4 separate regions of the Homo sapiens genome follow, and regions 2, 3 and 4 are each linked to region 1. Evidence: fine-mapped expression QTL. A gene starts in region 1. Each other region holds a variant in brackets. All regions are shown on one strand. Distances are from middle to middle. Region 1 holds the start of ENC1 (ectodermal-neural cortex 1). Region 2 overlaps LINC01331 (long intergenic non-protein coding RNA 1331). Region 3 has its middle 46 kb from the start of LINC01335. Region 4 overlaps LINC01331 (long intergenic non-protein coding RNA 1331).

What was found. PIP is the estimated chance that this variant, and not a neighbour inherited with it, causes the effect.
Region 2: its variant is fine-mapped to the expression of ENC1 in whole blood (INTERVAL, PIP 0.98).
Region 3: its variant is fine-mapped to the expression of ENC1 in whole blood (INTERVAL, PIP above 0.99).
Region 4: its variant is fine-mapped to the expression of ENC1 in whole blood (TOPMed, PIP above 0.99). The same link has a PIP of 0.9 or more in neutrophils.

The regions. Positions count from the first base shown.
Region 1 is chr5:74,636,455-74,644,561 of GRCh38, reverse strand. It overlaps ENC1 (ectodermal-neural cortex 1), which reads left to right and starts at 3,834. Exons shown (of 3, transcript NM_003633.4): 1 at 3,834-4,255; 2 at 8,064-8,107. The coding sequence starts at 8,077. It also overlaps a transcript of HEXB not described here. RefSeq lists silencers at 924-1,218, 3,726-3,985 and enhancers at 2,135-2,848, 2,849-3,564, 4,026-4,385.
Region 2 is chr5:74,402,381-74,410,487 of GRCh38, reverse strand. All of the region lies in intron 2 of LINC01331 (long intergenic non-protein coding RNA 1331), which reads left to right. Among named protein-coding and RNA genes, the nearest start is that of LINC01333, 85 kb to the right of the region's middle. The variant C/A (reference allele first, on the strand shown) is at 4,392.
Region 3 is chr5:74,257,956-74,266,062 of GRCh38, reverse strand. No RefSeq gene overlaps it. Among named protein-coding and RNA genes, the nearest start is that of LINC01335, 46 kb to the left of the region's middle. The variant G/A (reference allele first, on the strand shown) is at 4,471.
Region 4 is chr5:74,429,739-74,437,845 of GRCh38, reverse strand. All of the region lies in intron 2 of LINC01331 (long intergenic non-protein coding RNA 1331), which reads left to right. Among named protein-coding and RNA genes, the nearest start is that of LINC01331, 100 kb to the left of the region's middle. RefSeq lists an enhancer at 4,019-4,108. The variant T/G (reference allele first, on the strand shown) is at 4,330.

The sequences.
Region 1 (8,107 bases):
TTCCTTATTCTCATCTCTTTAATAAACAGCCAGACTTTCCTCTCTCTCTCTTTTTAAAAATAAGAGGATTGCTGATGGAAGCTGAGGTCTCATTTTCCTAGGTTTGTATATCTGTATTCTCACTGTTCTGAGGTCTTCAGATCCTCCTTTGGGAATGGAGGGCTTATTCCTCCAGCCTCTGTGTGTGCTGGCAGCTCCCTCAGCAAAAGAGCACCACCTTGCCCAAAGCCATGGTCCCTTCCCTGGGCAAGCTGCATTCAGCAACTGGGTGATGTAGCCCTATAAAAGCCTTCTTGCCCTAAATGCAGACAACCTGTGAGGCCATTTCAGCTCCAGAGGTCCCCATGGCGTCAGCCAAGGCTTGGCTGAGACCACATCCCAGCTCAGCATCTCCATCTGTCCACCCTGCTTCCCTCCCTTCCCCTTCAGGGATGTTGATCGCAACATATGTGCTACTGGGAGGTGTGGTCCCTGACTGGGCGTCCACTTCCCAACACGAACTTGACACTATGGAAGGGGAGCACAAATCTTTGGTGGGCAGTTGGCCCCTCTGCCACACTCTGTCTCCAGGACACAGCCTTGAAGTCCATCTAGCAAATAACTCGGGGAAGGAAAGCTGTGCTATCTTCCTTGCACAGATTCAGAAAGTGTCCTCATAAAACAAAGAGGGCGCTTTTGGAATACCAGCAGGGAACATGTCTGAATTTGGGTGGGGCTTCAGGAGACCACCGGAGGCAGGATGGCAGCTGCTTAGCCTACTGTTTGGTCTAATTCCCTGAGCTGTCCTGTCCCTGGTACCATGATCGCACCGTGTTAATTAAATCATTCTCATTAATTCAGCCCAAGTGTAAATTAGGAAGGAATGAAGATAAATTAGGTTTGAAGGCAGCTAATACATTTAACCGCATGCTGCTTATTTTGCGGCCTAACAAAATAACATTGTTAGGGGAGATAACAAGCCCAAAGCCTTGGGCACAGCTTCTTAATAGCATTAAAAAATGAGACTTTGGTTTGATGTCACAAGACAGAGGCAAAGACCTGCTCCCAAGGGCCTACAGGACTGGCCTAATGTCTTGTGTGAAGTGTTGGCTATTGTGTAATGCGGATACAGTGTAAGCAGCATTTCCTGACTTGTTTGTGACTCAGATATCTGCTATGTCTATGGTCGTCCAGTTTTGATGACAGCCCTGTTTAGAAGTTTCTTCCTGTACAAAATGAAGACTTGCTCAGCTTTTCTTTGTGTGAGTGGGGTGATAAGAGTTACCTTTAGGATTGGCTGAGAGATGCTGTGGGATTACACCGTTTGAATTGCTATGATCATAAATTTGCTAACTTGCAAATCATTTTCAGCTGAGATAAGCATTAAAAACTGCCCAACTGCCCGAAAACTAGTCATAGATTGGCTCAAGCAAACCAGAGTACAGTTTGTAGGAGGTCATCAGTAGCACCCATGATTTCCAAACTTGCAAGTTTAGTTCTTGTGACTTTCAGCAGGAAAATGTTTTCCAGTTTTTAGGACTTACATAAGCTAATTTCTTTTCTCTTGTATTGCTTATCTCCCCGAGGCAGATGAAGCGAATGTATACGGTCACTGAATGCATTTCAAGATTTTCCAGTCTACAGCTTTTTTTCCCTTTCTTCTATTGAAGCATAGAAAGTGGCAACATTAGGTAGAAAAGATACAGGAAAGTGGCACCAGCGGATGGTGACACAATGGCCAGCGGATTTCTTTCCTTTCTCAGCCCTGCCTGCTTAGCAAAGTTCTTTGCAAAGGGATCTGAACTTTGCTGTTCCCTTGGTTAAGGACATCCCGCAATTTCTAGGTGGTAAAGATACATACCTGTCCCTAGTTCTGTCGCTTCCTGTGGCAAAATCCCCAACCAACCAGCTGAGCTATGTACATAGTCCATTTCTAGGCAAGGTCATCTAGGTGCCGTTTTAGGTAGATTTGACTCACAAAGGAAGCAGACAGAGTGGGTCTAGGAGGTGTCTAAAAGGTGCGTTGGTGGCTGCCTTGATGAGCTCCCCCACACCTTGCCACAGGCTACAGAAACATGTTTTAAAAAGACATATGTGCAATAGTTACACATTTCCGCCTCCCATCTTTTCAGCACCTATCTCTGGAGTCTACAGAGTTTCCATCTGTCTGGTCTTTGCTTCAGAACCTGGGTGCTGCTTGCCAGCCCTCTCCTAACCTCGCAGCCCCCCTGGCTCTCCATACGTGGTTCTTGACATGAATTGATCCGGGCTGTCTCTGTGAATCAGCCTCAAGCCGAGACTCTGCATTAAAAAATATATATATTGAAAGGTTCGTGGTGAGGCTGCCGAGTTAATGCTAACAAAGGACTTCAGAGGGCACTGTCTTTCTTTGTTTGCAAGGAGCGAAATTTCTCGGCGCAAATACCAGGAAGGAACAAGGATAAAGGAAAATGAAATTAGAATGAAGAACTGACAGTCTTGGTTTCAGCAGTCTGGACTCTGGAAGCGCCATGTGGGGCCTCCTTAGCCAGTTTAAATCGCTCCTGCGCCTAGTGTTTTAAAGCAAGCTGGGAGGCGAAGCGCGGGCGCTTGGGGACGCGGGGACCCGGGGACGGAATAAACTCTGTCGTGGGGCCCTCACTCTCGAGCTGCAGAGCTGGGACATTGTTGCTAAGTGACTACGAGCCAGGCAATTCACATCTCCCTGGGCCTCGGTTCCCCACCTGTAAAACAAGGGGGCTGGACCGGTCATCTATCCCGTTCATTTATAGACTTAGCTCCAAATACCGAATAAAAGACAGATATTTTAACTCCCAGTGGAAAGACAAGCCTCTAGTTGCAAAGATAAATGGGATTCGTAAAAGTGATCACCACGCGAGATTATTTTTCGAATCGCCTTCCCTTCTCCTGACACGCGGGACTATTAAACGTGTGTGTGTGCTGGGCCATTTCTTTACTGAACTCCAAACTAACACCACCGAGCGATAAAAAACAGGAGAAGGTGATGGAGGCTTAATCGCTAGGAGAGGAGGCGGCGTGGCTGCTGCTTTGAGGAGTTCACTTTGAATCAAGCGGCCGCGGCGATTGGCTGAAAAGCACGTGGTGCGCGCCCCGCAGGACTGCGCCCCGGCTGCCCCTGCAGTCGCCTGGCTTAGGGCAGAGTCCAGCCGGGGGTGCCGCACCCACTGGGGAGTGGGGAGGGAGGACACATAGGAAATGCCTGGGGCTGGAGTCTCTTTGGCTCTCTGCCAGCAAGAAACTTAAACGTCCTGGCTTGCTCAACCCGAGTGTCCCTAAACTGTCCAGACTTTTGCCCGTCCATTGCCACTATCTCTCCCCACTCTGGGTGTCCTACCCAAGGCGCTGTCTATGCGTGCCCAGGGCCTGTCCTGCGGATACCCAGCTCGCCCCTTGCAGCCCTTTTTAGAGCATCTCGCGGGCTCTGGCATCACCAAGCGCACAGCCCCGGGCTGCGCTCCCCTAAGGTGGGTCCCTCAGATCCGGGGCTGTCCATTAACCAGGCTGGCCCAAAGAGGCGCAGACACTCGAACCCGGGAAAACTTATTTTATTCTCGGTTCCCGGGGTTGCAGCTGCCAGCGGCTGAGACAGTGCGTCCGCTTTGTCTCTCTGCACTCCCCGCAGCCCCCCTCTCCCGCTTCCTCTCCCGATTAACTCCCCCGACACGCTCTTCTCTAGCTCCTCTCCTCCTCCCACTCCTTCTCCTCCTCTTCCTCCTCCTACACCACAGGCCGCGCTAATGCGCTTCCTCCCTCCCCCGGTGTCGGTCTCTTTGCATACGCGCCCCCTCCCCTCCCCGCCGCGCCACTTATAGCGGGGCGCACGGCGGCGGGGCGCAGACTGCTCTGGCAGCCGGAGAGGAGGCGGTGCGGCGGTGGCGCTGCGGAGACCCGGTCCAGACGCCTGGCGGCCGCCGGCACACAAGGCGCTTTCTAGCTCCCTCCCCCGAGCGCACAGCCCGCCTCCTTCCGCGGCGCCTGCAGTGGCAGGCTTGCTCTGCCCTACCGTGACGCGCTCCGGAGACGCTCTGCGGGTCCTGGACACCGGGTCCGCGGCGTGGGGACGACAGACGGAGGCGAACGCCATCGGTAGCCGGTCCGCGAGCCATCGTTCGGGGCGCAGTCCTCTCCCCGGCTGGCCCTCCTTTCTCCGGGGCATTCGCCACCGCTTCCCTGGGCTGAGACGACCGGTTCGTCGCCTCCTTGCCCGTGACCGTCGCTAGAACTCAGTTGTGCGTTGCGGCCAGTCGCCACTGCTGTAAGTTTCCCCCACTGCCCCGGACCTGTTGCAGGCGCTGCGGGCTTCAGGGGCTGCTTCGGCTGCAGGGGTGTGTTCGCGAGGGGTGAGCGTGCTCCGAGCACTCGGGAGCTTCGACTAGAGGGCAAGGGGAGCTCTTCTCGGTGCGGAGATCACGGTGCCCGCCGCTGCCCTCCCACAGCAGGCAGAAGCCGGGCATCGCCGGAGAGGTCGACCGGCCTCCCCTCCGCGGTGCAATGTCTGGGGCGAGCCGCTGGGGAAGCGAGGAGCCGAGCTAAGGATACAGTCAGCCTCTCTCCTCTGCGGAAAGCAGCGCTTTCCTGGGGGTGAATGTCGCGCTGCGTCGCTCCCCGCAGCCTCCAGGGCCGAGCGCGCGGGATGGTTGGCCCACGTTGCATCCTCCCCGGCTTGGAGGAAAGTTGGGGCCATGCACAGACACCCTGAGTGCGGGCATGTTCACTGCGGCGGAAATGTCTATAGAGAATGAATGAAAACTGCTTTCTGAAAAACTAGTTTCTTGATCTGTCGTGTTAACATTATTAGTTACAAAGGATAGGAATTGGTGGGCCTGGAGATGAAACACTGAATTTATCCACATGCGGTTTGGTGTCACACAGGCATGGCCAGCTTGTTAAATAGCGTTGCAAGTGTTAATAAAAAGACTCTGGCAAGAAGCTACTTTTGTTAACAAGATCTTTATAATGTTCTATTGTTACCGGTAATGTAAATGCCCAGAAAAAAATCTGCTTAGTTTCTCTTTTGATTGGATTGAGATCAGGTTCAAAACCTGGAGAAGGGTGCGGGACGCTAAGCATTGGAGGCAGAGAGCCTGAGTTAGGAGCATGAAGTGAACTGAAGTTACTGTAACTGAAGCCCTTTTGATGTTCACAGTAATAGCAGCCCTTTCTCTGTCTTCTTTGCAGACGTAGGTTAAGTACATGTGTGCATTTTCTTGGCCACTTACTTGGTATGCAAATGTGATTTCTCTGGGGGCTTAAAAATGCTCGAAAGATGATTCATTTTATGTTGAAGGTGTGTTCAGTGACTTGTATACATGGTTTCTGCTGATATTTTGAGGTTTGCACAGTTTTAAACCAGAAAGCAAGTATTTCCTCTTGGGTTTCCAAGTTTACTTTTTATTTTAATCAAACATTGTTGCAAGAATGTTGATTGTGATTTTGACTGTGACGTGCTTTTCCATCTGGGTGGTATCCAAGATGACAGGCTAGGCTCTTCCTTCTGGCTTGTTGGGCCAACCTGGAACATACAGGAGCATAAACACAGGATGCGGAGAGATGTAGATCCTATATCCTAAGGTCTTCTAAGCAAATTGTTTTCTTAGGTGTAAGTCTGGTTGTGAATGTTGTTTTGCACCATCCTGAATTTAATGTTCAAGGAAATGTGTTCTGGGCCTAGCATGATTCCAGCTCAATGTGTAAGCATTTTGGTGCCTGTGCACCTAGTTTCAGGGAGCCTCATTCTTCCTTCACTCAGGGCAGCATTTGCTCTGAGAGAGGCGGCAGATTCACAAGAGTAAGTAGACAGTCTATTGAGGTTTAGGTTTAAAGTCTTCCTCCAGATACTCCAGATTGAATGTACTAATTAAAATAGCAACTACAGTGGTGGAGCATTGAGAATGCTAATGAATGTTTTAACCCTTTGGAAACCTGATGCATTCCCATAGGTTCATATGGTCATTCTCCAAAACACTGGGCATTGGTTAGAATGGAGTAGACAGTAGATGCTTAGCTTGAGGTGGGAGTGAAGCTGGCTCCTCACCATTTTTTATATCTCAAGTCACTGTGGAAATTACTGGGTGCTTTGTAAAGTCTTCCTAACACTGGAGCTCTAGGACTTTGTTGCTTCCTTTCTTCCACTCAGCCATGTTTACTCATCATAAAAAATTATATTCCAAAAAGGAAAGAAAACTAGTTGCATCACCTAATGGTATGAGGTATATGTGTCATGCCCCTGCCTTTGTGGTTTTCTGTGCAGTCTTATAGTGGGGCTCACATCTGGTTGGGGAGGTGCAGGTTAGTATTTTAGCCCATGAATCTGTGGCAAATCATTCATTTGCATTTATTAATAATTCTTAGAATATGCATTTAAAAATGTCTGAATGGTTAAAGGAAACAGAGTTTCAGCTGCGCTTTTGGGACTGGCTGTTATGTGTCTGGAACAGATACTGCAACCAGCCACACAGTTTACCCTCTGGGGATAAACAGCGGGATAAACAGCTTCCTTAGGAATCCTTGGACAGGCAGGTTCTTGAGGACTTCATTCCTTTGAAGTAACAGAGGGATGGTGTAAAAGAAAAGGATGAAGGCATGTGATTCAGTTTTTGAAGATGGGTGACAAGCATTTCCTATGTCTCTACCCTACTGTTTTCTTACTGAAGAAAACCAAAAGATAGCATTAGATTCTACTATAATTTCAATGTAGATACCAAGGAAAGCACTGTAGTCAGCAAATAAATTCTGGGGTGGCCCTAAATTAACAACAGCTGGCAAAATACACACACACACACACACACACACACACACACACACACGTATTTTTTGATTTAAATAAAGCAGTGTTTGCATTTTGAACTCCTTCTATGCAGGTGTCAGCATTTGCAGGTATACAGGAACAGTCCTAGTGATGCACTATTTAATCAAAAGACGGATGGATCTTTTGTTCTTGCAGCTGGTTTTCCAAGAATTGATATAAAGCGGGAAGAACAGAAAACAGCAGTCATAAGTATGCTACTCAAAATATTCTTCTTTTTATGTGCCAAATCCTCACATTGGAAGCTGTCCCGAGCAAGACAGGTAGTTGGTGATTATGGCCAGAATTTATTCTGTGCTTTGACTAAAGGCTTGCTGATCAATATATGGTTAATGTTGAAATTGGGGTGCTTTTAGGACTCTTCAGTGGTAGAGCTGTCTGGTTAGAAATTAATCTTTAAGTTGGGATGCCGAGGTGGGAGGATCAGGTGAGGCCAGGAGTTTGAGACCCGGTCTCTACAAAAAATACAAAAAATTATCTGGGTTTGGTGGTGCACACCTTTAGTGCCAGCTACTCGGAAGGCCAAGGCAGGAGGATCACTTAAGTCCAGGAGTTCGAGGCTGCAGTGAACTGTGATTGCACCACTGCACTCAAGCCAGGGTGACAGAGCGAGACTTGGTCTCAAAAGTATATATAAAATGAAATACATTATCTGTAACATTTAAATAAAGGTCTGATCATTGCAGAAGTTGGCCTTACATTTCCCATTTACTGTATGTGCTGGGAGATTGGATCTTACCAAAGGAATTCTTAATGGAATTAATTATTAGGTGTTTGTTTTACGCATGGCTTTATGTTGCATGGGGCATGAAAGCCAGTGCCCATCCTGGCATTATAAGAGCAGGAGACCTGGCATTTTAAGTGGCCCGCAGTGAATGAGCTGGACTAGGACAGGGAGCTGTGGGAATGAGACTCACTCCTCTTGGCTTTTGCTGACTTATATTCTAAAAGACTTCGATGGCCTGAAAGTTGGCAATCAGGTTTTCCAAGATGAACCTGCTTTTTATGCAGTGATTTTTTTTTTTTTTTTAAACAGTGCAGAGTTCAAATAGCTCAACAGTATTAGCAGTGAATATCCTTCCTTCCGGGTAGTTGTCTCTGGCTTTGTCCTGGAATGGCCATACACTATTCTAGAATAGTAGGTGGCATGGTCAACAACAAAGTGTTCTGTTTTTTGTGCAAAACCATTGTTGCTTTCGTTCTGCTGTTCTGAACATCAGGAGCATCATTTTCAATTTATTATTATTATTATTTTTAGGAGTGGAAACAAAATGTCAGTCAGTGTGCATGAGAACCGCAAGT
Region 2 (8,107 bases), 230 kb after region 1:
GACATTTATATTACTTTTGTTAAGTCCTTTTGGGGATCGTCAGGTTCTTCAAACTTCACCTTCTTTCTTATTGCAGAACCTAAAATATTACCCTGTTTCTCTTTCTTCCACCAATAATCCACTCCATGACTTTGCTGTGTTCTTCCCAATAGGGTCTGTGGAGTAGGTTTTCATCTAACCTGTTCCTCATGTTCTCTGAAGACAAACGTGCAATCTCTTGTCATGTATTGATTTTGAAACAGACAATAGCTGAAATTGCAAATGTGGGAAAATTATGAATGTTCAGACACATAAAATTATTCGAATCACAACCCCAAATACCTTATTTTCTCAAACAGCTGTCATAAGCTCTCTAATAATGTTCTTTTTTTCCTCCCTCAAGTAATCTAGGGGTCCTCAAGGAGAGGTTTACAGGTGTCCCCAGGCCCTCCTGCCTATGGATCTGAGCTGTCCCAGGCTGCAGCTCCTCTTCCCTGTTCTCCAACCTGGAGTCACTCTTGCTGAGCTTATGAGGCTTGTCAGGCAGGGCAGGCACAGTTGTAATCACTGAGTGCCAAAGTTGGCAATGGCCTCTGGCAGAGTCAGGAAGAAGGGCTCCTGTCCTTTTGTGTCACACTGTGTTAGATGTGGGACATGAGCCCAGTGGGCTAAAACATCTATTGAAACAGCTACTCAAGTTTTGTTATGGTGCCTCTCCCTAGGACCTAAGCATGTGGTCTAAGGGATTGGGCTGGGCATTGAGTAGAGACCACTTGCTCCATGTAGACCCCTCCTACACCCTCTTTGAATTCTAAGACTTCGTTACTCAGCCCTATTCCTGGCTTCTTCCTCTCTTATAATGAGCTGTCTCCTGGGGGTACCTGCGTCTTCCCTGAGAGTGGAATTTTGCCTGGTACTCCACTAGACTGTAATGTGCCCAGATCACACACTTCCCAGCAGCAGGTGCAATGCTGGCTTGTTCCCAAGAGGCTGCTCATTCCCCATGCACTAGACTTCCATCTGGCCCAAGCCACCAGCCTAAGCCAAGAGAGGCCTGGACCCTGCAAATGGATGGCAGAAAACCCAGGCTCAAGCTGAGATCCTCTGCACAGGCATGGTCTCTGGTTCCTGATTTTGAAATAGTAATTGGAAGACCTGGCTGCCGGCCCTCTGCTGTCTGTTTTCTTTCTGATTATAGGGCTCACCAAACTCTTCCGAGAGAAAAAGCATACATTTTGAAATATTGAGTTTTGACTCTCTGTGAAGGCCTGCAGAGGGATGTCAGGGATACCTGAATGGTTGCTGTCTGTTGCCTTTGGCCTCTGCTGTGTCACAGCTGTAACCCTGCTTGGGCATTACCTGAAAAATCTCAGAAGCGTAGTCTTCTACAGATTTCTGGCTATCTTCCGACAGATTCAGAATTTAGTGTGATCTGAGTTGGTAAGATTTTCCTAATTTCAACTTTCACATCAAGATGGTATGCAGCAAATTCTACGTGATAATTATTAAGGATAGAGCAGATTTCAGCTTTGTGACTAGAAAAATACAATCCAGTCTATTCATATCTTGAAAAATTTCGAGAAATTTTCTCCTGTGCAGAAGAAACCAACTTCAGAAGTCACGAATGTGTTAGACAAAGATAAGAGCCAAATCTAAGGTCAATAAAATATTTACTCTGACAGCTGTCAAGTTTGCATTTGTTTAGAACCTGAAGTTATCTGTCAGTTGTCTATGAAATTCACTGCTTTAGCTTTCAGTTTCCCAGATTCTCTTCTATTTGTTACCATTTTTTTTTCTAGCTTCCTTTCTTCAAAATTCACCCACCATCTCTCATAGCCCCACTCCCATTGTGATTTCATCTTTCCCTGTGTCCTCAGAGGTATCAGAGATGCGGCAAGGCAGGCTGTACAGTGCTTGGTGCCGTGGAGCATTTTTTACAGCAGGTTCTGCAAAGTTGACTGTAGATTTAAAGCAACCTTTACATCCTATCTGAAGTGAGTTGATTTATGAGTCAGTGTTTGGTAAGTACTCAGAGATCCTTACATTAAATGCAAGATCCAAGTGCACCGTATTATTGCTTCACTTATTTGTCTTTTGTAAAGCACCTGGTACCATGACAATATTCACTAAATAAATAACAAATGAAACACACTTCCTTCTCTATTTTAATAATATACTATTCATGCAATTTTTTTTCCCAGAACAAAGGATCATTGTACGGAGTTGCTCTGCCAATATTAGGCTGATATCTTATTGCAGGCAGAGTGAAGAGATAAAATGGCATGACACAGGAAAACTGATAAAGTTTCTTTTCAAAACAAAGGAGAACAAGGCAATAACACAAAATATGATAAGCCAAGAAATGATTCAATAGAATTAATACAAATATGAATGTAGTTCCCTTGATATTTTAATGCTTCTCTCAGTTATAAAACAATACCCACATGCCCAGAGGAAAATTCAAATTATAGTTTCTTGATCAATTCTATGTTGTTTTTCTTTAAAAAAAAAAAAAATCTGTTGTCTTCTGCTATGATTCTGTCCTTAGGAAATCATACCAGAGATGTTTAACAGAGAGCAGAACCATTGCCAAACATTTCTAGTGGGAACTGAGCTACCAGATATTTTCCTCAAATTATAGAAAATTGCCATTTGTAAAGTCCACATTATATTTAGCTTCTTAATTTAGGATTAAACATCTGTAACTTATTGTTAGGACATCCGGAGAGTTTGCAAAATTCTATAATAGGAATATTGTCTCTTTCTTTAGTCCCATGGTGTCTCCAAAGAAAGTTGTTTTGGTCCCATTTGTAAAGATTTACTGATGGTCAAAGGAACCACTATGTAATTTTAGAGTAAAAAAATTGCAATGTAATTTTGACATGTTTTCACCCCAAACTGCCACCAGTTGACCAAGGATTCTGATGGTGGTCACCCTTTAAGCTGCCTGACGTACCCAAGCTGGGATCCAGTGGAACAGAAGGGGCAACTTTATCTCTTTCCCCAAGGGCTTCAGCTGGAGACCAAGATGCCGCAATAACACAAGCCTTGGAGAAATTTAGGAATGGCCATGATTTCCCCCTGTAGGCTCCACTAACAGTCAACTAGGAAATAGTACAACTTATTCTTAAAACATTAAAGAATGGACAGTGATCTTTTAATGACTAAATTTAGCTGAGGGGCTTAGAATTTCTGAATGATCAAGGGCAATGTAATAGAACTTGAGTCTTGCATTTACAAGCTTTTCAGATTAGCTTTAGTTCAGTTTCTTCAAATATGGTCAAGGAAAGCTTCTGAGAAGACACCACATTAAAGCTGAGCTGTGAAGGATGATGAAGATGATATAGGAATAAAATTCAAGAGGAGGTTTTCTGGCTAAAGGAGTAGAGTGGGTAAAGCAAAGCAGTGGGAAAGGACATGTGCGTTTAAATATTCGTCAGAGCTCCCCAGCGGCCCTGGAGGTACACATGAGGCTGGAAACATGTTACAACACTCTGTTCTCCCAAACTATTGGCATTGATGTTATTTCCCCTGGAAAGCCTTCTCTGAAACTGGATCAAGTGCCCTTTCTCTGCTTCTGGATCCCTCTGCCCTTGTTCCAATTTAGTTCTTAGAGCAATACATGCATTTATTTATTTTTTCTTATTTGACTTCCTCTCTCTGGTTTAAGCTCTTTAGAGGAGGGTCCTTGTCTTGACCACTTCTGCCTTCTTACTGCCCTAGACAATGCTTGATAGGTGCTCAATGAATATTTTTTGAACTGAATAAACAATGCAAACTGTTCCTTAAAAGATGCTTTTAAAATGTTTTAAATTTTGTTCAAAGGCCTTAGACTAATTGTTTTAAAGGCATAAACCATGTATTAATAATGAATGTGAATATATTTTATAGTTAAACTATTAAAATAAACTTACTCTAGACCATTATAGAAAGAACAGAATGCAATACCAGATGGGTACCTTTTGGATCCACCTGAAGGATTTCAGCTGTCAAATTGCTAAAAGTACCTCTTTATAAAGGAGTTTCATCTATGTGATAAATTGCTCATACCAGGGACTATTAAGATAGCAATACAGTAAGTCCTCACTTAACACTGTTGATAGGTTCTTGGAAACTGCAACTATAAGCAAAATAGTGTATGACGAAACCAATTTTACCATAGGCTAAATGATATAAACAAGAGTTAAGTTCCTACAGCATATTTTTGGTCTCAAAACATCGAACTTCCAAATAAACACCAATATACTTTGGATATTAAGCATTGAAATAAATTTGAGTTATACATAGATTTAAGATTAATACAAACAAGCAAGATAATTGTTCAACTGCTTATTCCAGTTCAGGGTCGACAGTGGCCAGAGCCTATCCCAGCAGCTTGGGGCACAGGGCAGACACCAACCCTGAACAGGACA[C/A]TTTCCCATTACAGGGTGCACTCACTCACCCACCCACACTCACTCAGGGACAATTTAGACACACCAATGAACTGAATGTGCATATCTTTGGGATATAGGAGGAAACTGCAGGACCCAGAGAGAACTCACACAGATACGGGGAGAGCATGCAAACTCCACAAAGACAGCGGCTCTGGGGAGAAATCTATTTTTTTCCTTCTCATCAATGTTATAACGAAATAATATTGAATGAAACATTATTTGAAGACCTGCTGTTGAAGTGGGTAGAACCCCTATAATCTGCCCGGGAAAGACTGTGTTGGAGAGAACTTGGACTTGGGGTCAGAAAACATGAGACAGCTCTGGAAATGGCTATGGGAACCTGAGAAGCTATTCAGGCCCTGATCTTCAATTTCATATCCACACACTCTCAAACAGAATATCAGCTCTGCTTGCTTTGCAGAGTTGGGAAGATAAATTAAGATAATGTAGATGTGAGATAATAAACTACAAAGAATTCTCCTTTTTATCATAATGGTGCAAGAAACAAGTTGAATTGATATCTCAAATCCTAGAATGTCTTTTGTTCACAAGTTCAATAACATATTCCAGACCTTAGGACTTTTGATTTGATAAGGAATCCGTTGATTGTACCCTTACCTCTTTCTAACCTGATAAGGAAAGGAATATAAATCACCAGTAAAGGAATGTAGGGTTATAAAATTTATCCTTGGCAGGACACTGTATACCCTCTGGTATTTAACACCAAATCCCAGAGTCAGATTCAGCCTCCAGGTAGTTTTTGTGTAGAGCTTATTAATAACTGCATGGAAATATCCAATGGCAGGTTCTGGCCACAGTTAAGTTGAGTGCTGGCTGGACAGATGAGCTCTGCTCTCCAGCACATTTCTCCCATTCTCTGCTCTTTTCCAGGATGTCAGGGGGTGGCTTTTGCCAACATGTTGAAAGGCCTGGCCAGTTTTCCTTCAGTGCTGCTCAGACTAGGTTACAGGGAGGGTTGGCATGTTCACCAACTCTATTTCTACACTGACTGTTCTGACAAAATTTAAACCTGATAGGGATTTGTCACTCCCTGGTGGCCCTTTGCCTTAGTTTATGACAGGCTTATTATCTTTGATCTTCCAAACCCAGGGAGTAGAGGATGGGTGTTTGATTTCATATACCAGGTACCGTCGACTTTAATTATCTTCTTGAAATCCGTCCAGCATGCAGGGATGAGGAACTGAAGTCCCAAATCACCCTGTAGTTTGGACAGTCTCTAAAACCAGAATGTGCATATATAGTTTAGTTATGCAGTATTTGTCAGGAAAATGCCATATTTTGCTGAGTTGTGATTTTCTGATATGCCCCATTTTAAATTAGACCTTTTTGTGTGTGTGGTTGATTTATAATTCTGACAGAGAAATAGCTATAAAATATAAAATATGTAACCAGCCAGGGCTGGAACACAGCCATATAATTTCTCCATTTGCTCTGCTGAAGTTGGTCATATGTAAATCCTCTTCTTTGCTTGGTGGCAGAGTCCATGGATGGGAAAACTGGAAGAACATTGTAGAGTGGGAGTTAGTCATATCATGTTTAACAGCATTAAGAGTCAAATATTTTTTCTCAATTTCAAATAATTTCTCTCTTAAATTTTGGTTAGTTACCTGGGTCCTGAACTAAATATCATTTAGTTCAGTCAACTGTGGAATTAGAGCTTGACAAAAAAATATATAGCCAGGCGGCCAGGCGCCCTGGCTCATGCCTGTAATCCCAACACTTTGGGAGGCTGAGGTGGGTGGATCACAATGTCAAGAGATTGAGACCATCCTGGCCAACGTGGTGAAACCCCATCTCTACTAAAAATACAAAAATTAGCTGGGCGTGCTGGCATGTGCCTACAGTCCCAGCTACTTGGGAGGCTGAGGCAGGAGAATTGCTTGAACCCGGGAGGCACAGGTTGCAGTGAGCCAAGATCACACCACTGCACTCTAGCCTGGTGACAGAGCAAGACTCTGTCTCAATATATATATATCTATATCTGAATCTGTAAAATTAAAATGGTGATATCTGTCCTATCAGCCTCATGGCCAGGGAGGGAATCCTATGGTGGGAGGGTGTAGTGGGTAGGGTGTATAAAACAGAAGGCTCTCCAGAGACTGTAATGTTCTATAAATGTAGTGTATTGTCATCACTTGGCCCACAAATACAGATATTTGAGAAACTGATAAAATGCGGTTGAAAAGGAGGCATTGTGTTGTGCCCAGAGACATCCTGTGGCTCATGGGGAGGGGATAGCCATCATAGGCTGCCATATGGACCTCAACTTACAGGCCCCCATGGGGACAGAAGCCATAACCTTAATTTTGGAGATTGGTTCAGTGTAGGAACCACATTCAAAAGTCTTCCATGTATAAATTCAGAGAAAGTGATGAGCAAAAAAGTTAGAAGCCGGTGGAGTGATGATTAGACATGCATTTATTTGCTGTACTCTAATGTGGGGTTTGAAAAAACTGGTAGACTCTAACAACTTTGTCAAGATGCCCTTCCCAACTTAAACCATTCATTTCCTCTTTCTTTATCCCTTACACTCCAACTGTGGAGCAGCCTGTGGCTTAGCCAGCAGCCAGGCATGGAATGGGGGTGGGGGGTTTGGGTGTGGGAATGAGTGTGCCTATTCTTGGAAGCTGGAGTCCGGGGTTTGAGTCTAGACTGCACCTCTACTGAGTAACTCGGAAACCATGGACTATCTAATCAATGCAGTTTGCCTGCTTCATTTATTGTGAAGCTCTAAGCAAAAGCTCTACAGAAACTGTAGAGTCAGCCATGTAAACTAATATTATTATTACTATGTACATCAATGTGCATGAATGTGTGTTTATCAATGAAATAAGCAGAAGGGAGAAAGGACGCCATATTACATTTTTACAAATTGGCTGCCTAATTTGCTTCTTAGTTAAGCACATGTCAGAATGCTTGGCTGCCTAGTTGTGGTTGTGAAGGATGTGTCTAGAAGTTACTGATCAAAATACACCCAAGAGCTCTGCCCTGGCTGCAGAAAGGGAGGCAATCTTCCACTGGTGATTTTCACACTTTATATTTAGCAAAAGTAACTTTTTTCAAAAGTCTGTTTGATTGTCAAGAAGCTTTTCAAAAACATCTTCTGTAGGAACAAAAAGACCAAACCTTCCTTCCTGCCCACTTCTACCCATAGGCTCTCTCTCAGTTCTTTCTTCCCCTCCTCCTACGTGCTCTTTCTACCCTATTCTTGCTCTCCTACACGCCTGCTTACTGTGTATTTGTAGTCCAGAAGTGGCAGCTGCCCACACAGATGAATTCAGTGGGTCAAGGGAGACACTGTATCCATAGGAACCTGAAAAGAGCCAGGCAGCCTCTGCTGTCCAACCCACGTGTCTGTGATGTGGCCAGACTGGCTGATGAAGGAGTTTTGCTCCAGTTATGACACTTAGGAACAGACAGGGCAGAAACTGACAGCTTTGATCCAGACCCTGGGATGTAAAATGTGCCCAGCAGGAGCCATTGCGGGCAGTTGTCAATCACTTCCTCTTAACCTGCTCCTGGGATCCTGCCTCTGGCTCCAAGCTGAACACTCCTAGCTCCTGGCCAGGCTGGCTATGGTAGGTAAACTAGAAGAGAACCTGAACTGGGAGCTTATTTTTTCATTCAACAATGATCAAACATGTACTAAACACCAGATACTGTGTAATAGTATG
Region 3 (8,107 bases), 380 kb after region 1:
GCTCAAGTGCTCTTCCCACCTCAGCCTCCTGAGTGGCTAGGACTATAGGCACACACTGCCATGCCCAGCTAATGTATTTTATTTTTTAATTTTTTGTAGAGACAGGGTTTTGCCACGTTGCCCATGCTGGTCTTGAAGTCCTGGTCCCAAGTGATCATCCCGCCTCGGCTGTCCAAAGTGCTGGGATTACAGGTGTGAACCACTGTGTCCAGCCCTATTTTGTTATTTTTAAAAAGACACTATACAATTAACAATAAAAGCTAGCACCTGCAGTGCGCATGCTATGTGCCAGGCACTGTTCTAAGCATTTTGTATGAATTATAATAACTTCATGAAATAGATGCTATTATTAATCCCATTTTGCAGAGGAGGAAACAGAGAGATTACAGTTTGTAAAACAGGAAGCCAGGCTTTAGATTCAGGCCTTTTGGCTCCAGTACCCATGCCCTAAATATTGATCTCTAATGTCTCTCAACCATTTTATCATCAAACTCTTCACCCTGTCTCCCATGCTGAAAATCCTGGCGCTAGGCACCGAGTCTTCTTTCTTTCTCTCTCACCAGTCACCAAATCTTTTTCTTACCTCTTCCTAATATCCTCTTGCATATGCCCCATCTCTTTCACCACACTCTCTCTGTCATCACCAGGTGACAGATCCTTACCAACCCTTACTAGGTCTACCCATGCTGCCCCCTAACTGGTCATCCAACCTCCAATCTCTCCCTCCCCAATTCATCCTAAATACCGCAATCAGCTCAGAGTCCCTGAAACACTGCTTTGTATACATCATACCATTCCCCCCAGAATGCTAAATGTTTTGTTTATCAAATAAGTTGAGATTATTTAGACCTCCACCATCTACGAAAAGGGTCAGCAAACTATGGCCCATGGGCCGAGCCCAGCCCACTGCCCGTTTGTGTTTACCCCACAAGATAAGAATGTTCCTTATAAATTTTTAATGGTTGGACAAAATCAAAAGAAGAGTAATACTTTGTGACAACATTAAAATGATATAAAATACAAATTTTAGTGTCCTTAATTAAGGTTTATTGGGATATACCCACTCTCATTTTTTTGCTTATTTTTTGTGACTGCTTTTGAGCTACAATGGCAGAGTTGAATGTTGCAACAGAGACCATAAGGCCTGCAAAGCCTAAATTCACAATCTGGCCCTTTATAGAAAAAGTTTGCTGATCTCTGATCCAAACTGTATTTCTACCTAGTCTTATCTACCTAAACAAACTGGTGTTCTTACCCTTGCTTGAAGATATATCAGGTGTTTTTCTGCCTTAATACTTGTGCTCCTCTCATTCTTTGGCTTAGTTCAGGGATTGGCCAACCTTTTCTATAAAGGGCCAGATAGCAAATCCAATGGGAAGTCTCATGCTCTTCTAATTGGAGTATAAAGTGGTAAGATAATTTGAATACTCCTCAGCAATATTCACTACATCCGAACATAAATATACCTTATATAACACGATTATACCTCTAGGCATATGCCCAACAGAAATTCTTATTTATAAGCACCAAAAGATAGGTACACAAATGTTTATTGCAGTATTATTCATAATAACCAAAAATTAGAAAATACTTAAAAGGCCATAAACAGAAAAATTATAACTATGCTGTGGCACATTTATTTAAAGAATATCATAAATGATACTACAATAAAGAGCAAACTACTGTTATGTACAACATGTATGAATCTCACAGAATGTTAAACAAAAGAAACCAGGCACATAAAAGCACACACTGTGTAATTTATTATAAAGTTCAAAGTCATGTGAAGCAATCTATGTTAGCAGTTAGTCTGTGGTATCACATCTTAGATTCCCCAGGAAGCAGAGATTTGTGTGCAGTAAGTCAATTGGGGTGTGACCTGAGGGTCAGCCCATGAGAGTGAATGAAGGATGCTGTGAAGGTCAGAAGGAAAAGGTGAACTGTGATGAAGTCACAACCAGGGCCTCAGCTAACCTAAAGGGGAGCTTTCTAATGATGATGGCAGCTGGGCATGATGACTCACACCTATAATCCCAGTGTTTTGGGAGGCCAAAGTGGGAGTATCACTTGAGCCCAGGAGGTTGAGGCTGCAATGATCATACCACTGCACTCCAGCCTGGGCAACAGAGTGAAGTGAGACCTTGTCTTTAAACACACACACACACACACACACACACACACACACACACAAACAGCCTTTACATCCCAGTCGTTTACGATCAACTGGTCACTGGATGTGAGACACCTTGAGGAATGGTGCAGGACCCTGGGTAAGGCTCTCTTTACCCAGGGAAGTCTTCGAGTGAGACTAGGCTAAGAGCAGCTAGTAGCCAACACTCCTAGTAGGGGAATAAATGCTTGAGTCGTGGAGGGGGCCTGGGGGGCACACCACAGCATCCACTGTTTGTGGTTACCTCTCAGTAGGAGTAGTGACTGGAAAGTGACACCAGGACAGGGGTTTCTAGGGGTCTGGCGATACCCTATTTATCCAAATGGTGGTTACAAAGGTATGTTCATTTTGTAAACATTTATGTTCATGATTTTTGCACTTTATAATATTATATTCTATGCCATAAAAGAGCTTATTTAAGAATGAAAGGGGCCGAGTGAGGTGGCTCATGCCTGTAATTCTCAGCAGTTTGGGAGGCCAAGGCAGGCAGATCATTTGAGGTCAGGAGTTCGAGACCAGGCTGACCAACATGGTGAAACTCCATCTCTATTAAAAGTACAAAAAAATTAGCTGGGCATGGTGGTGTGCACCTGTAGTCCCAGCTGCTCAGGAGACTGAGGCAGGAGGATCACTTGAACCCAGGAGACAGAGGTTGCAGTGAGCCGAGATAGTGCCACTGAACTCCAGCCTGGGCGACAGAGTGAGACTCTGTCAAAAAGAAAAAAAAAAGAATGAAAGGTGGAAGTGATTAGGATTGCTGAGAAGTCAAGAAGAATGAAGACTGTAGAGTGTCCCTGGGATTTCATAGCAGGCTGGTGACTGGTAACCCTAAGGACAGCTGTTTCAGGGTGGCAGTCAGGTTGCAAACAGTTGTGGAGTAAGTGAGAAGGGAGGAAATGGGGAGAGTGAGGGTGATGACACTTGAGATGCTAGCCTCAGGATAGTAGCAGTTAGTCAGAAGGGGCCTGGTGAGAATTTTGTTTTGAATAGAAAATGCTTGAGCCTTTTAAAATCTTATAAGAAGTATCCAGTGGAGAACTGGTTGTAAATATTAAAAAGAGAAGGAATGGTTGTTGAGGGTTAGTGCAAATCACAGGATATTAGCCTGCTTTACCAGAAGGGCTTTTCTAACCTTTGATGGCATCAGCTATTCAGGCCACTTATCTTGTCTTTATCACATGATACCTCATGATGTTATATCTCTATTTATACATGTAAGTTTTAACTTTCAATAAAATCCTCTTGAGAACTGTGACTATTGGGCCTTGAATCCCCATTGATTACTTAGCACAATGCTTTGTGCACTGTAGGCACTCAGTAAGTGTGCTGGTATGGGAGTAGATGATAACAATGGTGATAAAAATAAGCATAAAAAGAGAGCATATCCATTTTTTCAGATCTTGTATGGAGCTTAAAGCAAGATGATTATGAAAAGCAAGACAGAGAGTCCCATTTTAATAAGCCCTGATACTTTTTTCCAATATCTGGTTTCATTTGTAGTTTATGCATCTGAAAATTGGATAGAAAGGTCAAGGCAGTGACCAGTGGGGCATCGCAAATTATGCAACTAAGAAGATGCAATTCTCTGTTTGATCCTTTATCCAGGACTAGGACATAGCCCTTTCTTACCCTTCAAAGTGCTTTCTTGATTCAGAAAAACTGGGTTCAGAGAACTTGTCCAAGGCAACAAGCTACAGGCAGAAGTGAGCCAAGCATCCAGGCCTCTTTCCCCAGCAGCTCCAGAGCCTGTCCGCCTCCCCTGTCCATATGTTCCAGATGGACTGCACATGCTGGGGTGTAAACATGCCAGGCTTGGGAAATTTGAAATGTGTGTTCAATCAATGAACAGGAGGACCTAGTCCTTGGTGAAAATGCAGTCTTCCATTGGACTTGTCTATCCAGACATATTTGTAGTATGATGACAATTTGTAGTTATATGGAGTCTTTCAACCTTACGGGCTTCGAAGTTTTTTTAGATAATAAATATGTGAGTGCCTTCTGTTTGGCTTCCTGGATCACTCTACAGGCCCAAGTATCACAGAGGTGCCTAGCTGTTGGACATCCAGATATGTGGGTAGAAAACCAAAAATAGATGACAAAAATCTGCAGTCAAAATCTTTATATCATTAAGGTCTGGATTTATAGTCACAGACATTTCAGATCATAACATTTCAAGCAGCAATATTCTACACAGTTTGATTACAGAATGCAGTTAATTTTCTCCTGGCCTTTTCTTTAAGTCAGCAATATTACAATGAAGTGAAAAACGAGAAGGGAGTGTTTGGTATGTTTCCTGGATT[G/A]ACTGACTCTAACAGCATCTCTCATTTTGTTAACCCTTTCTTTTCTACTTACATGGCACTTTTTGGCTTTTTCCTTTTTTCCTTTTTTTTTTTTTTTTTGAGATAGAGTTTCACTCTTGTTGTACAGGCTGGAGTGCAATGGCTCAACCTCGGCTCACCGCAACCTCTGCCTCCTGGGTTCAAGTGATTCTCCTGCATAGCTGGGATTACAGGCATGCGCCACTACGCCTAATTTTGCATTTTTAGTAGAGACGGGGTTTCTCCATGTTGGTCAGGCTGGTCTCAAACTCCCAACCTCGGGTGATCTGCCCACCTCAGCCTCCCAAAGTGCTGGGATTACAGGCGTGAGCCACCGTGCTCTGTCGGCTTTTTCCTTTTGAAACCAAGTAAGGATGCTTTACAGGAGGGCACAGCAGCCTCAGACAACATGGTATTTTCTGCAGCAGCTGCTGTTAACACACCTCCAGGTCCCTTTCCCGCCACCCTGAGTTCACCTGCAGCAGAAGTGGATGGCTTCTGCAGCTGACAGCTTCCCGCCCCAAACACCTAGACCCTCTGCTTTTCTCTGCTTCTCTCTGCCTGAGGGCTTTCTGTGGCCTCACTCCCAGAGCAGTGCAGCAGTTTTATGGATTTAATATTCCCAGTGAAAATCCTCAACATAAGGCTATGAAGTCCATGGATAAGTACCTGGGGTCCCCCAACCATGGTGGGATAATTTCAGGGTGCATGCTAAACAGTTTCTTAGAGGGTCCTCGTGGGATTGAGGCTCAGTTTACCTACACAAGTGGCCTGTGGCTTTTCTCTTTTCCCATCTTATTTTTCTCACCCCCACTTTGGTGTTTCCTGGACTCACCTGCCGAGTAAAGTCCTTGTCTCATCTGCTCTTGTGTGGTTCCCACATAAAGACACTTCCCAAGTCAATGTTTTCTAAATTGTCTGTCCTGAATTCAATTTAGTGGGCCTAACCAATATTTCCCAGCAATAGAAAAATACCATTATGCATCACAGTTAGGAAGGATAAGTACTGAATCACAAACCCTTTCATTCAGTTATATATGCTGGCTAATGAAAAAAATTTATTTGTTGCTGTGGGTCATGGTCAAAAGAGTTTGAAGATCATATTTCTAAATGCTTTTGACATTCTACTCATTAAAACTCAGTATAATTTCAATATGGGAAATGAGACCAGAGAGAAGAAAACAACAGCATCTGAATTGGAAGGGGTTTTCCCACAGGTTAAAGGAATGAAAGGAGCCTTAGCTTTGCAGCAAAGTTGCTGTGTGACATGCAGCAGGTCGTGTGTCTTTGAGCCTCCTTTCCACATTTCTAAAATGAGGGGCTCAACCGGATGATCTTTGGTGTTCTCACTAACACGGATACTCAGGATCTAGTCCCTTCCTGAAGTGTTGGCACACGCGCATACCCACCTGCTTTGATATCTTTGAGTCCTAGCCTCATGAGTGGTTCAGAGCACAGGGAACCTCCCCAATTGGGTACAGAGGGAGAGCACGCAAGAGGCCACCCATGGGAGCTCATTCTTTCTGCTGGCATGGGAGAGAACATCTGCCTGGCACCAAGGGTATCCCACAGGGAAGCTGCACTGCCTGGCAGGGGTTGGGGGAGGGCAAGGTTGGCAGGGAGAATCCAGCAGGGCTCAGGACTAGGAGTGGCTCCGAGTGGAGCTGAGGGTAGGGAATGGAGGTGGAGGAGGGCAGCAGGTGTCATTGAGAGAGTGCGAGTGGGCAGCACAGAGGTCCATGGGTTTGTTTTCCTCTGCCCTTGGCAAAAGTGGAGGTGCTTTGGAAGGAACTGGGCAGGGTGAAAAGCAGCGCCCCCTGGAAAGACACAGAAGCCGTGGTTACTTGGATGCCAAAGGAAGCTGTTGGTTTTTTTTTTCTAAAAAATCACAGTGGTCCCTTAGGTTAGAGTCTTGGTAAAAATTTTTTCCACCATTCCCTCAATCCCTCACCCTACACACGCCCGACCCGGTGGTACCCTGCCTTTCCACACATTTTTCTTTGAACCCTGCAATCTTTCTCTCTCGTCATTTCATGCCCTTCTTTCCTTATATACTCTGCTCACAACTCAAGTCTTCTGTGATACTTCCTTTAATTTTGCCTCTCTGTACCTCGATTCCAGATGTCAAGGAGGCTGTGTGGCCTAACACACCATTTTTATTTGCTCTCGAGCTTGGTAGTCAATCCATCTTTTCTACCAGATGACTTTAAGGAAAACAGAATGGAGCCCCAAATTTTCCCTTAAGAGATGGAAGATAAAATATGGTTTCAAATAAGAATACAGGCAAAATATCTTACAAAAATGGGTGCCAATAGAAAGCATTCAGATACTCCCATGAGAAATAAAAAAGGTAATAGAGTATTAATAGTAGCTAATACTTGAGTGATTACTATAGGTAAGGCACTCTTGAAAGTGTTTCAAGTATATCAAAACACTTAATTTTAGAACTGTGAAGTGGATTCTACTTGTGTCTTTATTTTGTAGGAGAAGAGACTTGTACACAGAGAGGCTGGGCAACTTGTACATGGTTGCACAGATGTCCAGAGGCAGTGCTGAGATGTGAACACAGGAAGACTGGATTCAGCATCTGTGCTACTAACCAGGACACTATGAAGTCTCTCATACCTGTGGTACTAGGAAAATCAGAGAAAATTTCAAGGAGGGTGGGGCATTAGAAGCTGACTATGGAGGAACCGGTAGGAGTTGGATGTTTGGAAATAGAGGGCAGGGCATTGCAGGTAGAGAATGGGAGTGTATTCTGGATGCCAACACATCTGTGGCGGTCCTAAGATCAGGAATAGATGGTCTGTATCTTCAGTATGACTTAATGTTTCTGAGTGTAAGACTTAATCTCCATTTGAAAAAGGATAAAAAGAAGGAAAAAAAATAAAAGCTATTACGTTTCTGATTTGATTTTCAATTTGACAATATAATCTATACATTATGTTTACATTTGATTTTCCTAGTTTTTCTTTTTCTTTTTTTCCCCTCAAGATGCTCAGCTGCAAAATGCAAGAATTTGGGAAGATTTGAGCAAAGGACAGGAAAGAACAATATATTCTGGGAATGCAGGATTTCTTCCTTTGGACCTGCTTCCAGTGGAAATCCCCATGAAGATCCTCTCTTCCATCTGTCTGCTGAAACACAAAGAGAAATGCCATGAAATGAGAGTGAGGGAGAGGTTTTTTAAACATTGAAGATGCCTGAAAGCAGAGAGTCTTGTAGGGCTTAAGAGAGACTTTCATCTCCCTGATTTATTTCTCAAGGGAGTGTTAACTGCCCCCAGATTTAATATCACCCCTGAGTGACTGGGAGGCAGCAACTGGTAAAACTATTTTCACTGTCTCAAAAGCCTCCCTGAAGCACCAAGAGGCCAATTCCTCAAAAGAAGACATGCAAATGGCTTTAGAAACTGCAGAGCAGCCAGGAGGCAGCAGCTTATTTGCCTAAAAAAGAAAAAAAAAATCATGCTAGAATCACAGGTGTATTTTACAAGCTTTAAGTTGATTCCTCATAAGGGCAAAGTCTGACTGCTTCTCAGATATCAAAGTTGTGTTCCATGCAGAGTGGCCCCTTAAAAACTTATGTTGTGTTTATCAGTGACTGCAGGTTCAGAGCT
Region 4 (8,107 bases), 210 kb after region 1:
TGCTAGGTCAAATGGTATTTCTGGTTCTAGATCCTTAAGGAATTGCCACACTGTCTTCCACAGTGGTTGAACTAATTTACACTCCCACCAACAGTGTAAAAGCCTTCCTATTTTTTCACATCCTCTTCAGCATCTGTTATATCCTGACTTTTTAATGATCGCCATTCTAACTGGCGTGGGATGGTATCTCATTGTGGTTTTGATTTGCATTTCTCTGATGAACAGTGATTATGAGCTTTTTTAATGTTTGTGGGCTGCATAAATGTCTTCTTTTGAGAAGTGTCTGTTCATATCCTTCACCCACTTTTTGATGGGGCTGTTTTTTTCTTGCAAATTTGTTTAAGTTCTTGGTAGATTCTGGATATTAGCCCTTTGTCAGATGGATAGATTGCAAACATTTTCTCCCATTCAGTAGGTTCCCTGTTTGCTCTGATGATAGTTTTTTTTGCCATGCAGAAGTTCTTTAGTTTAATTAGATCCCATTGTCAATTTTGGCTTTTGTTGTCGTTGTTTTTGGTGTTTTAGTCATGGAGTCTTTGCCCATGCCTATGTCCCGAATGATATTGCCCAGATTTTCTCCTAGGGTTTTCATGGTTTTAGGTTTTACATGTAAGTTTTCAATCCATCTTGAATTAATTTTTGTATAAGGTGTAAGGAAGGGGTCCATTTTCAGTTTTCTGCATATGGCTAGCCAGTTTTCCCAGCACCATTTATTAAGCAGGGAATCCTTTCCCCATTGCTTGTTTTTGTCAGGTTTGTTGAAGATCAGATAGTTGTAGATGTGTGGCATTATTTCTGAGGCCTCTCTTCTGTTCCATTGGTCTATATATCTTTTTTGGTACCAGTACCATGCTGTTTTGGTTACTGTAGCCTTGTAGTATACTTTGAAGTCAGGTAGTGTGATGCCCCAACTTTGTTCTTTTTGCTTAAGATTGTCTTGACTATATGGGCTCTTTTTTGGTTCCATATGAAATTTAAAGCAGTTTTTTCTAGTTCTGTGAAGAAAGTCAATGGTAGCTTGTTGGGGGATAGCATTGAATCTATAAATTACTTTAGACAGTATGGCCGTTTTCACTATATTGATTCTTTCTATCCATGAGCATGACTGTTTTTCCATTTGTTTGTGTCTTTTCTTGTTTCCTTGAGCAGTGGTTTGTAGTTCCCCTTGAAGAGGCCTTCCACATCCCTTGTAAGTTGTATTCCTAGGTATTTTACTCTTTGTAGCAATTGTGAATGGGAGTTCACTCATGATTTGGCTCTTGGTTTGTCTATTATTGGTGTATAGGAATGCTTGTGATTTTTGCACATTGATTTTGTGTCCTGAGACTTTGCTGAAGTTGCTTATCAGTTTAAGGAGACTTGAGGTTGAGACGATGGTGTTTTCTAAATATACAATCATGTCATCTGCAAACAGAGACAATTTGACTTCCTCTCTTCCTATTTGAATACCCTTTATTTCTTTCTCTTGCCTGATTGCCCTGGCCAGAACTTCCAATACTATGTTGAATAGGAGTGGTGAGAGAGGGCATCCTTGTCTTGTGCCGGTTTTCAAAGGAAATGCTTCCAGCTTGTGCCCATTTAGTATGATATTGGCTGTGGGTTTGTAGTAAATGGCTCTTATTATTTTGAGATACGTTCCATCGATACCTAATTTATTGAGAGTTTTTAGCATGAAGGGGTGTTGAATTTTATCGAAGGCCTTTTCTGCATCTATTGAGATAATCATGTGGTTTTTGTCATTGGTTCTGTTTGCACCCTCCCAATACTAAACTAGGAAGACATCGAATCCCTGAATAGACCAATAACAAGTTCTGAAATTGAGGCAGTAAACAACAGCTTATCAACCAAAAAAAAGTCCAGGACCAGATGGATTCACAGTCAAATTCTACCAGAGGTACAAAGAGGGGCTGGGTATCATTCCTTCTAAAATGATTCCAAATAATAGAAAAAGAGGGACTCCTTGCAAACTCATTTTATGAGGCCAGCATTGTCCTGATACCAAAACATGGCAGAGACACAACAAAAAAAGAAAATTTCAGGCCAATATCCCTGATGAACATTGATGCGAAAATCCTCAATAAGATTCTGGCAAACCGAATCCAGCAGCACATCAAAAAGCTTATCCACCACGATCAAGTCGGCTTCACCCTGGGATGAAAGGCTGGTTCAACATACGCAAATCAATAAACGTAATTCATCACATAAACTCTTGTTTATTTCTACCTCATCTTCCTTGCTTTTTGGCATGATGAGAAGTTGTACTCATCTTACACTTTCTTCCAGGTTTGAAATCAGCTGTTTCTCTAAGTAGCCTGAATTTCCTTTAGTGGAGAAGAGTATTTAGAATACTGTGAATATCTGGGCACTAGGTGCGCTCATTGCCACTGTGATGTCATTGCTCCCAGGTCCTAGCCATGGACAGAACTATATTTATTTCTATATTTATGTATGTATATTGAAAACTATTCATTCACATCAATATCCAATTCCAATGCAACAATACACAGGGTTCATTCTAATTTTCTCCCTTTCTGTTATCCCTAAAATATCTACTTAACTGATCCATCCTCCTATATGTAACCCATCTCCCAGCTCTGTTGCTGCCCCCTACTCCTTGCAGCTCCTCTTCTATTGTAGCTGCCTGGATTCCAACACCTCATACTCCCAGCTCCTTCCTTGCTGCATTTGCACTCTGGCTTATGTCTCCCTGTGGATACCCCACTTACCTGGCTTGGGCTCCAAACCCCATGCCAGGCCACCATCCCATGTGAACCCATTTCTCACCCTGCTCAGGCTTTCTGTCAGTCATTTTCAATCTGACTCCTAGCAGATTTTTAAAAGGATCCACTTGGGTAGATACAAAATGAGTTTAAGCAACTAAACTCTGGGAAAAAAAAAAACAACCCAAGCCCAAATCTATTTAATAACATGTATTACATTTTAAAATAGGTAGATTAGAGTACTAAAATAAAGTTTGTTGATTCTCTTCTTTTCCACTTTAACCCTTTAAATTAAAACAAATACTAGGGCTTAGCTGGGATATGTAGCAGTTGGCTGATGAGGAAGGAAGTGAAGATGATGCTGCCTTCTGGGCTGGCATCTACATAGTGATTATGCAAGACTAGGGTGAAGGAGGCAATGCGGAACAAGGACAGAAGAGGCAGCCTCTTTTCTGCCTTTATTTTATGATTTTTAATCTTGACTTGAGAACCAGATGTTCTGATTAAGGAATGACTGAGGACTGGGGACATGGCCAAGGTTTCAAAAAGAGGCAATGGACAAAAGATGCTTCTGGTAGACCAGGTGACGTCAGAAAGAAAATTAATCTAATTTTATGTAAGTGAATTTCCTCCTGAACCAGGATAGCAGGAAATGTAATCTTTCAGGAAAGACAGAGTTGGAGATTTCATTTTCTACTTATCCCTTTTCCCATGCTAGAGAAACAGTTTTACTTCAAAGAAGCAGACAAGGAGGTGTTTCCTGCAGGGTGAACAGATTTGCAGAGTGGGCTGGTGCTACTCCCTTGATGAGGAACCTCTGTGTGGGGCAGCCTATCTGGGGAATTAAATTGTTCTCTGGCCCTTGCCTGCTGGGCTGCAGGGCCTCAGTGATGGGGATGGGGGGTGGGGCACTCCATAGTTCCCGTGGCTAAATGAGTGCACGTAGCAGGATTGTCCTAAGCTTTGTTTAATGGCATTTCAATGGGGGAAAATGAAGTTCCCGGAACAAAATCCCAAATTGTTCTTGCTTTATCTTCCTCCTAAATGTGTGTATTTCTGAGCCGAAAGGCAAAGGAAGTAAAACTCCACCCACCTCTTCCCCATCTGACCATGTCAGATCCCAAGTATTTGTCTGTGCTCCAATTAAAGAGACGAAGATTCTCGATTTCACCCCAGCTCTTGTCAGTACAGGGAGCTCTTAACTTTCCACACGGAAGTAGAGAAATGTAATTTTGAGGAGAAGTGCTGATTTTTATTGGGCATGACTTAACTCAAGCTGCATCCCTGTTTTTTTTTTTTTTCTTTTTAAGAATAATCACTTCAAAATGATTAATGATGCCTGAAGCCTGACCAGTCTTACTTCCTGTGGTGAAATGTGGAACTTTTGTGCATGTCTGGGTTCGTAGGAGGGTGTGCACCAAACTCTATCAAGAGATAGTTTCCCATACTGTACAAACAGTTGGGTCATTGTTCAGAAAAGCTGACTCTCTGAAGGAAACGTGCTACAGAGTGGTACCATATCCACAGCGGGGAGGGAAGGCTTTGCTTCAGTTACAGAAGGGAAGTAAACTCATTTCCTTCTTAAGGTGCCAGAACAAGAGAGTTGCTT[T/G]GTCAGCGGGTGCCTCAATCTGGCTTTTTTGTTGTTGGTGGTGGGGGTTACGAACAATGAGGATGATGTCTTTGAAAACAGGTAGGATTTTTGAAGGGTCACAATAGAGGAATAGGTAGAACAAAGAGTCACATCCTGCTGGGACGCAACCATTCTACTGGACCTCTAGGCTGATCTGGGGGAACAGACTCCTCAGGGGAGCATCCGGCCCTTCCAGCATTTCCCAGGAGCAGCCCTAGCCTGACTGCCAACCACTCTTCATTGAGGACCCAGAACTGGTCTGCAGCAAATGCATTTAGCATTTTTGTGAATCCTGTTTGGAAAAGAGCATGGATGATGCTTATTTAAGAAAGCTAAAACTAACACAGAATACTATTGATAGATTTTTTTTTTACAGGATTTTGGAAGTCTAATAATTGTGTCATGTATATGTTCTCCTACCTCCTTCCCCACTCCTCCATGCTATTCTTTGCATTAATACTCTGAGAAGGGTGATTTGGTGAAAAAGAAAAGCAGACCGTCAGCTTATCTTTTCTGGAGCTCTGAGGAAGCTCTATAGTGATCCTTCCCTTAATAAGTTGTTTTATAGAGAAGCTGAACTTTCCACTGAGGCACAGTGCATGGGATAAAAGACTGGCTTAAGAGATACAAAGTCAGAAAGGGGAAAGGGATACTAGCAGAGCTCTGAGTGCTGAGGGTGGTGCGAGAGAGTGCGTGCCTGTGAGAATGCACACGTGTGTGCAAGCCTTCTCTCTTCTGAACAAATTCATCCCAATAGGTCTCCATTTCCTCAGGACCCATAACATCACCCACTTATGGGAGGGCTATGAAGAACAATGGGTGATAGCTGCAAAGAAATATTAAGGCATGAATTATTGCTTCATGATTGTCTTCTATTAGAAAAGCCACATGTGAGACAAAACAAACAAACAATTCCTCCCCAACGCCCCCCCACCAGCATACAAAAAGTCTACACTGGCTGCTCCTGAGCTGAGCTGTTCTTAGGATACGTTGTGTAAACCAGGCTCTCAATTGCAGAACTGCATTGGCATCAACTGTGTTAGAAACCATAAGTAATTTTGGGCACACTGCCTAAGGGGTTGGAGCCAGGAGGACTGATCTTTATGTTAACAGGCAGAGCACCTGCCTGAGAAATCTGGGAACACAGGTTTTCTTCCCACGACGCCTTCTTCATGCGAATTAATCTATTAGCTGGTATGTGTGTCAGTTTATTTAGGAGCATATGTGCTGACAATTGGCTTCCGACTGTAAAATACGGTCTTGAGGGAGAAAATGATTAATTGCCTGCTTTAAAGTGTGTGTGTGTGTGTGTGTGTGTGTGTATGTGTATGTGTTTGATGACAGTCACTATTAGTATGCATGTGCCTATAAAACTAAAGGCAAACTAACGGCAAATAACCATTAAGACATTGAAATGTGTGAATAAACAAATATAAAAGAAATAGGGCTGTGAACATCTCAAATAGGTCTTTACTATCATAAACATTTTTTGGGGGGGTCTCTGCCTATATCTTACTTTTAAAATGTTATATGTGTTAGTAAACTCTTCATTCTTATCAATGTGAAAAGAATGTAGGAATGGGATTACTTGGTCCCTTGTAGAAATCCAGAGTAACAGACTAGATAATATAGTTTCCAAAATACAAAATGTAGGCCATTTATGGTTGTGAACTATTTTCCCAAATAAAGATACTGAAATAAGAAACAAAACAAAATTGCCATTGTTTCATTATAAAAAGGGCATTTTAACACAGAAAGCAGAAGTACATAGTCTCAATAAAGAGCAAAGCCTTGAGTTGAATATAAGTAATGTGATGAAAGGTCACTGCACTGTTTTTATCTTTCTCATTTTGCTGTGGATGGATATTTGGGAACCCCTCCTTTTTATTGGCACTCTGCATTAGGAATGTCATTATAGCAGTGGTGCTCAGAATTCAAGCGAAGATAAATGGGAAGAGGGATGGCCAGTTTGAAGGCCAGTTTGCCCAGGATGGAGGTATGACAACACTCAGTAAGTGTCTAAGGCACTGCTAAGTGCTTTATGCACATTGCTTCATTTAATTGCTGTCTAGTTTCCAGAAACTGGCGTAAGGATGCTGCTTTCCATTGACCAATGGTCCATCAGCCAGCTACTGAGAGCTTTTGGAGAGTGGCTGTGACTAGCACTTTTAGAAAATAACCAAATGAGGAGCTGAGAAAACAAATTATTGCTGAGACAAAGAGGGTGGATGAGATGGTGGAAGAGGAAAATGGACCAGCTCAAAACTTAAAAATAAAGCCATCAGATGCTGCAGAGGGGGAAAGGAGAGTGGGGAATGAGGAGCAGTCAGTTAGCTAAGTGATGAGGAAATAATCGAGGTCAATAAAGCAGATCCAGGGGTAGGCTGGCAACAGAAATCAGCTTGTACATGGTGCCAACTGGGTTTGGGAAGTTTGGTTAGATAGCTGTTCCAGAAGACAGCAAAGTGATCGTTTTTTCTTTTTAATTTCTTTCTTTTAATAGAAAGATTTGGACTTTCAATCACTCAACAAACATTTATTGGGTGTCTACTAGTAAGGACTGTGCTAAGTGCTGAGGATTTAGACATAAAAGGAGCAATCTCTGCTCTTAAAGAGCTCTCAGTCTGGGAACTTTTTGAGGAAGTCTGAGAGGTGAACAGACAAGGCTAATGTCATGTGTTAAAAGCTCTGGGAGAGGAAAGCCTGGGGCTCTTGCCACACAGGGCAGAGAGTATTAATGATGCAGGAATTTTTTTTGACCCCTTCATCGGACTTGCTACAGGGGTGGTCCATTTACCAGGCCCACTGTGCTCAACCTTTTGCAGGAGGGAGTGCATTAGCAAGCGAGTGCAGGATCTGGCTGGATGCTTTGGGTGCTGGCAGGAGCAGGTTCCATGTGGCCCCATGGTGGTGCCCAGATGGGGATGCCTGTGACCGCCGAAGCCCCAGAGGGTGTGTTACGATGATCTCTTAGCTCTGCCATCTGTGGACAGCAGTGTGTTATCAGCTCAGTGGGCCCCTTGCCTCATCACGTTGGGTGGCTGTCCTCTGCCAGCAAGGGCAAAGGGCCAGTGTGACAACCTTTTTTGAGTACCCACACTTGGTGGGTCCTGAGCTCTTGTCCAGTGCCCAAGAAGAATTAGGTTGCATGGAAACTTGAAGGATGGTGGAGGCAGAGAATTTTTTTTTTTTTTAGTGATGGAAGTGGCTCTCAGTAGAGAGGGGATAGCTGGAGAGGGGACAGGATGGGCAGGTAATCTTCCCTGAAGTCTGGCTGTCTCCACATGGCTCTTCTCTGAAGTTAAGCTGTCTCTCCTCTGAAGTCTAGCCGTCGCTCTGAAGTCAAGTCACCTCTCTCCAGTCAAGCCACTTCTCCCTCTCTACTACTGAGTCTGGGGTCTTTATAGGCACAGGATAGGAGGTGGGGCAGGCCATAGGTAGTTTTGGAAAAGGCAAAATTTGATTGGTAAAAAGACATTATTCAGAAAGAACCAACTGGGTGCAGTGGCTCACACCTATAATCCTAGCATTCTGGAAGGCCGAGTTGGGTGGATCACCTGAGGTCAGGAGTTCTAGGCCAGAAAGAACCAATCAGGAGAGAGTGGGCAAACAGGGATAGAAGTTCCCACTTCAGGCTGTGGGTTTCAGGCTTTTTGGCTTGATGGTGGGGTTTCGCCAGGGACCCACCCTTGTCTGCCTCTATCTATCATTAACTTTCACTGAAGATGGCCGATGGTTGGGAACAGCATCACAGAGG